Linked DNA regions of Homo sapiens. The protein of the gene in region 1 interacts with the protein of each later gene in a pairwise test. Each region holds a gene or a part of one and is shown on either strand. Other genes may lie near its edges.

The links. Proteins that work in one complex are often made in the same cells at the same time.
Region 2: the proteins of PKN2 (region 1) and MYO9B interact in a two-hybrid assay, tested with the Homo sapiens proteins (one large-scale study listed by BioGRID and IntAct).

The regions. Positions count from the first base shown.
Region 1 is NC_000001.11:88,802,773-88,806,272, reverse strand, and holds part of PKN2 (serine/threonine-protein kinase N2), read right to left. Parts: exon of another isoform or gene 2,482-3,500; intron 1,883-2,481; coding exon 1,739-1,882; intron 1,428-1,738; coding exon 1,352-1,427; intron 777-1,351; coding exon 602-776; intron 383-601; coding exon 256-382; intron 1-255. UniProt on the Homo sapiens protein: PKC-related serine/threonine-protein kinase and Rho/Rac effector protein that participates in specific signal transduction responses in the cell.
Region 2 is NC_000019.10:17,078,777-17,082,276, reverse strand, and holds part of MYO9B (unconventional myosin-IXb), read right to left. Parts: intron 1-3,500. UniProt on the Homo sapiens protein: Myosins are actin-based motor molecules with ATPase activity. Unconventional myosins serve in intracellular movements. Binds actin with high affinity both in the absence and presence of ATP and its mechanochemical activity is inhibited by calcium ions.

The DNA of each region.
Region 1 (3,500 bases):
GCTTGCAGGAGAATCGCTTGAATCCGGGAGGCGGAGGTTGCAGTGAGCCGAGATCATGCCATTGCACTCCAGCCTGGGTAACAAGAGTGAAACTCTGTCTCAAAAAACAAAAACAAAAACAAAAAACAAACAAAAAACCATAAATTCACAGTTCAGTGGCAATTTTAAATGGAAAGACACGCCTTATTCACTATGATGCTTTTATTGCTAATTCATTCAGTGAAGAGGAATTATGCAAGGTTTAAAATGGCTTGCCTGTCCTGGTATATCCAAAACTCTTAATTCAGAAGATTCATCTATTTCTCCAAGAGAAGAAGCTCGTGGTGGGGCTGGAGGAGGTTCAGGCTCAAGATCAAAGTCCAATTTGGTTACTGTAGAATCACTTATAGAAGATAAAGTAACTCACCAAAACAGTAATAGAAAGTCTGTATTTTAAACAGCTTTAAAATTAAAGCAAACAATTTACTTTTTAAGTAAACAGAACACTACTTTCAAAATACTACTTGGGAAAAAAGCAAGACTCAGTACACCTGCTATAATCAGTACGTAAGAATGTCCCAATAACTTTGTATAAGAGATGCTTAAAATCTCAGACACATACCTAGCTGGAGGTGCTAGTTGAGGGATGCGTACATCAACCACTGGCACTGTAGTAGGCACAGGAGCTTGAGGGCTGAAGGTGCCAGAATGATTTACTGTAGGAATAGCTCTTCTTACTAGCCTTCCCCAAGTGGCAATATTAATATTCATTTGAGGAGCTCTGAGAAATGTTTTGCCTGTAGATGTTGAAAAAAACAAAAACAGCAAGTAATTTCTTTATGTATAACCAAAAGTCATAATTTAAAAATTCTTATCCATTAGTTTATAATCTACGAAGAACAAACAAAATTTGTCACTTAAAAAAACTAGTTTTTTACTATTTGCTAGTAAAGGCTAATGCAAAATAGCATACGTAGTTTTAAAAATAAATAGGTAAGAAATTGTTTTTTTCTCTTTAAGTCTAGTAGTAAGGTTTTAAAAATAAATCTTATCTTTTAGATATAAATTATAATAATTATGAATACATCAATATGATGTCTGGGTTTGCTTCAAATTTGAGAAAGTAGTGAGAGGATGGCATATGGATAAAATAAAATTGGCCATGAGTTGATTATTGTTGAAGCCGGGTGACTGTACATTTCACTAGTCTCTCCACTTATGGATACATTTAAAATATTCCTTAATAAGAAGTTAGAAATAAATGAATAAACAACAACAAAAAAACCCACACAGATGGCTATTACTTTTTAAATGGTAATTAGATTGTTTAAGAAAATATCAAAATGCTATGCATTTGATTGTTAGTAATTACCTTGTTGCTTTGAAAAAATTTTCTTTTGTCTTTGAAGTTTTGGTCTTCTTTCAATAACTGGATTAAAAAAGGTAACCTGCAGTGAAGAAAATTCAAGTTGACATGAAAATAGCATGGTTCATGAAATCTACTAAATTTATAAAATTTTAAAGCTTAAGAGAATCTTAGTTACAGTTTAGTCCAGCCCCTCATTTTCTACATGAGAAAACAGACATAGGAAGAATAATTGATTTGTCTCAAAGTCACATACCTATTCAGTGGCATAGCTCAGCCAAGAACTCAAGTCATCTGTCTTTCAGCCTAACACTCTTTCTACTTCTATATTATGCTGCCTACATATGTAATTTCAATTGTAGTTATGCACATTTAATAAAATACATTTATTACCTCTGCAAATAAAGTACCCTGTGGTTCCAAATAGAGACACATGCCATGCCGTTGGTTGTCTAAAAAATCTTCTAACCTCAGAAATTTTACAGCACACAGAGACCGCCAATCACGCCAATAAACTGAAATTTCCAGTTCACGTGACTAGGATAATTAAAAAAAATAATAAAGAAAACAGAAAAGACATCATTGGACACACACTTGAATAAAATATCACAAAAAATATGAAATACAAATACAATAAACAAAAATTACACACACAAAGGTCACACTGTTTTAAAGAGGTTTGTAACATTTCTCAACTGTATAGTACTTTATCAAACTTACACATTTTAATTCAAAGAAACAAAACTTACATTGTGACATTTTCCAGCTAAGGTATTCCTAAAGTATACTTAAAGAATACACAACTGGGAACAACCAATACAGATGAATAACCACCGAAACTCCTTCTCTTAGAGCTTCAATCTTTCAGATTTCCCTCCTCTATTTGCCATCATGTGCTATGTTACTACCCCAATGCTTGCTTCAAATAACTCATTTGAAACCTTTGTATTTATTTGTCTCATTGCTAAGCCAGAAAAAGTTCTGCAAATAGCATTTATTCTGTACTCACAATGTGCCACATATTGTGCTAATAAGCACTTTAAGAATATTAGGTCATTTAATTTTCAAAAGAATACCACTGGGTAGCAAGACCCATTCTGCGTACGAAAGGAAGAAAGGGGAAATTCAGACCAAGCTTTATACAGAAAGATATTCATTTATTATAACAATAAAACATAATTTAAAAAGCAAATTAGCAAGAATTTGAATGTTCAAAAACCAGGGACAAGTTAATTATACCAAAGCCGTATGAGAGAATACACAGTAGACACTGAAAATAATGCTTATGTGGCGAAATATATTTAAGGTTTTAATAACCAGTGTTTAAATGCACCTGTAGAACATAGTTCCTAAGCTGTGGCCAAACCATATACTGACCTCTACCTATATGTTTTAACGTATATACATTTTAATCATAAAGTACTGGACTTTTCTATTATTTTGTTTTTCAGGCTTCTGTACACCATCCACAAAAAGAGATAAATGTTTCTCCTTTTAAGGCTCTACAAAGCAATAAATTACTTATTTTATATAACAAATTTCAATTTATAAACTTATGCATTTCATTATGTAACGTTTTGGTATAAACAGTAAAAAAAAATCTATTGACCTTAAATTATATATCTAGTTGATGTTAATGAACACGAAAAACACTTATAAAAAATGCAACATGAAAAGAATCAAAATACAATGTGCCAGAGGGTTTCACAGTCAAACAGGAAAAGAATTAGAAAAATACGTCTATGGCAGTGAGAATGTGATCTCAGGGCCTTCCACCTCATTTCTTCTCTCTGACTCATAATTAATATGGGAGAGAACTGTCATGAAAGAAGTATGAGGAGAATATAATTAAGACTAGCAAATGGCATATAGAAGGGATGGGGTACTAAGGCTATAATATTCTATTGAAGTTAAAAGTGTTAAGTATTTTGGAAGCAGTTATTTTGTGAAATAAACTGGAGGAAGAATCATGTCAGGATTGGTAATTTAGACTCCATTTTTTTAGATTGGAGGAAGAGAGGTCTACTTTCTCCTGCTTTCTTCCACTGTTACAAGGAAGACTTGTTATGCATCAGGAAGATGCAAGATGCACATACGCTAGAGACAGAATTAATACTTGTTAAAAGTTCTTATTACACTTTTACACTGGCTAAAA
Region 2 (3,500 bases), on another chromosome or scaffold:
GCCTGCTGCCGGCACCTTCACAGACCCCACTGGGCTGTTAATTTGACTTCCATGCTCGTGACTCCTGGCTGAACATCTGAACAGAGGCGAGGGCTATTTCTGTTCTCCTCAGTCTCCCCAAGGGCCAGCTCTGAGCCTGGCTCCCAGCCAATACTTCCTTTTTGCTGAAGGATTTTAAGACCTTCCAGAAACTTCTTTTGTTCAATCACTTGTGACAGCAGTTGGTCCTAAGGTCACTTGGGTCCAAGAGTGTAGTTACTTTTGGATATTCCTTGCCCCTGACCCTGGCAATACTGAGAACAGAGATATACCCCCGCCCCATGCCCTGTTTGTAAACTTCATCCTGCTTCCCCACCAGGCACACGCAGCCTTGTGGACCTGGCCCTCAACACATCCCCTGTAAAATCCCATGGGACCCACTCCGCCCTGGGCTGGGTCCTCGCCTCTTTTTTTTTTTTTTTTTTTTGAGATGGGATCTTACTCTCTTGCCCAGGCTGGAGTGCAGTGGCACAAGATCACGGCTCACTGCAACCTCTGCCTCCTGGGTTCAAGCAATTCTTCTGCCTCAGCCACCCAAGCAGCTGGGATTACAGGTGTGTGCCACTACACCCAGCTAATTTTTGTATTTTTAGTAGAGACTGGGTTTCATCATGTTGGCCAGGCTGGTCTCAAACTCCTGACCTTAGGTGATCCTCCCACCTCGGCCTCCCAAAGTGCTGGGATTACAGGCGTAAGCCACTGCACCAGGCCTCTCACCTCTCTTTAGTCACCCCTGAATGTATGAGTGTGAGATCTGGAAAACAGGGAGCGTCCAAAATTGATGTGGCCAACCAACCTGCTCACCCTTAAAGTGTTTATTTAAAGGAGTGAGAAGAGACAAAATGGACCTATTCTCTATTGACACGATCATTTCCCTCCAGGTTCCTATATTATCTAAAAATGTAAGTTGAGGCCGGGCACGGTGGCTCACATCTGTTATCCCAGCACTTTGGGAGTCCGAGCGGGCTGATCACCTGATGTCAGGAGTTTAAGACCAGCCTGGTCAACACAATGAAAGCCCATCTCTACTAAAAATACAAAAAGTAGCTGGGCGTGGTGGCGCACGCCTGTAGTCCCAGCTACTCGGGAGGCTGAGGCAGGAGAATCACTTGAACCTGGGAGACAGAGGTTGCAGTGAGCTGAGATCGCGTCACTGCACCCCAGCCTGGGTGACAGAGTGAGACTCTGCCCCCGCCCCCAAAATAAATAAACAAATAAATAAAAATGTAATTTGAATTTGTCCTTTTCTCAGTATTATGGGCTGAGCTGTGTCCACCACTCCCCTCCACAAAGAAATATTCACATATTGAAATCCTAAACCTCAGAACTTCAGAGTATGAGTATATTTGGGATTTTTTTTTTTTTTAAGAGATGGGGGTGTCGTTCTGTCACCCAGGCTGGAATGCAGTGCCATGATCATAGCTCACTGTAGCCTCAAACTCCCAGGCTCAAGCGATCTGTCTGTCTCAGCTTCTTAAAGTGCTGGGACCACAGGCATTCACCATCATGTCTAGCTAATTTTAGTATTTTTTTGTAGAGATGGGATCTTGCTATGTTGTCCAGGCTGGTCTTAAACTCCTGGCCTCAAGTGATCCTCCTGCCTCAGCCTCCCAAAGGGCTGAGATTACAGGCGTGTGCCACCAAGCCTCGCCTAGAGACAGGGTCTTTATGGGGATGATTCAGTTAAAATGATGTCATTAGGGTGGGCCCCCTTCCATATGACTGCTGTCCTCATAAGAGGAAATTTGGACACAGAGACAGGCACAGAGGGAGGACGATGTGAAGACCCAGGGGAAGACGGCTATGTATGAGCCAACAGAGAGAGGCGTGGAACAGATTCTCACAGCCCTCCGAAGGCACGAACCCTGCCAACACCTTGATCTTGAATGTGATCTTAAACGTCTGGCCTCTAGAACTGCAAGCCAATATACTTCTGTCGTTCTGGCCACCCAGCGTGCGGTTCTGTTACAGCAGCCCTAGCAAACTCAGGCACCCAGCAACAACAGTCATGAAACACCCCTAGCGGGGCTCCTTCTCTTGCACATACAGCCCTGTGCAGCAGGGCAGAGATGGGTTTTAAACAAGTGAGTCAGACAAGGATATCTTATTCATCACTCCGACGAACCCATGGGCTGAACCCTTGAATCACTACTTTATTTATCATCGGGCTCGGGCTCAGAAAGTCTCGCTGAGGAAATGAGTAGAACCCAAACTCGTCAGCTGCATTTCTGAAACATGCCTAATCTCTGAGGCTCTTTCCCAGCCACGATAGAAATTGAAAGGGAACGGGGCTCTGGGCTGCGGCGGTGGGCTGGTGTGGAGACAGAGCCCTTTGTTCTGCCACTCCAGGGACCACGAGGGCAGAAGAGAAGGGCTTGTCTTGCTTTGCCGAGAGGCCGCCTGGGGCCGTCTGAATGGCCGGCCGAGCAGGGGCAGCCTGGCACAGCTGGGCTGGGGATGCCGGGCACACAAAGGGCTGGTGGGTGGGGTGTGGGGGCAGCACCCAGAAGGGACCGTCAGTCCCGTGGCCCCAGAGCGTCTCCTCCAATCAAGGTAAAGCAGCAAAGTCACGGTCAAGGAGGGGGCCAAGCAGGGAAGGGGACAGCAAGATGGACCAAGAACAAAAATTCAGCAGTATGTGCTTGGGAACGGGCGGGCGAAAGGGCCCATGGAAGAGATAATGCAGCTTACAAAAGCGACGTTTATCCGGGGCAACCTCCAAAGTAGCTCTTGGGAGAGAATCTAATACCTCTAATCTCAGAAGAAAAGCAACAGATCATTCTAAGACGAGGACAGTTCCTCCAGAAATCCAGGTCAGTCACAAGACAAAGAAAAGACAAGGGCACCCGCTGTCCACCCTCGGGCACGTTGCCTACCCTCCCACAGTCCGTTCCTAACGGTTCCTCCTTTTTATCAAGACCCGCTCCCTCCTGATTAAGAACTGACTGGATGGCAGGATTCAGTTCCTGGTCTCTGCCCCTGTTCCCACTCTTAGTGGCAGTTCCTCAGGGGCTCCACAAACACCAAGGACCCACCAAGGCAATGATGGGCCCTAGAGGGGAACCAGGTTTTACTAATGAGCATCACATTTCACCTGGCGGGGGAGGTGATTCTGCCCCCAGGGGACACGTGGCCATGGCTGGAGTCATTTTCAGTTGTTACCCCTTGGAGGGGATGGAATACTACTGGCATCTCATGGGTGACAGCCAGGGACACTATTCCACATTCTACAGTGCACAGCCCCAACTGTCAATGGTGATGCGGGTGAGAAACGGCCCTGGAGATTTGGGTTTCCCCAGTTAAAGGTTACTAAGGATCCTGCATGTTTCTAGAAAGCTCAAGGAACCATCTCTGAAGTCATCACCTGCCTGGGCCTGTTTCTGTATCAGGAAGATAAGAACAAGGACCCTCGCACTGCCGGTTGGCAGAATGAGAGAGCTGGGATGCCCTGTACAGGCCGG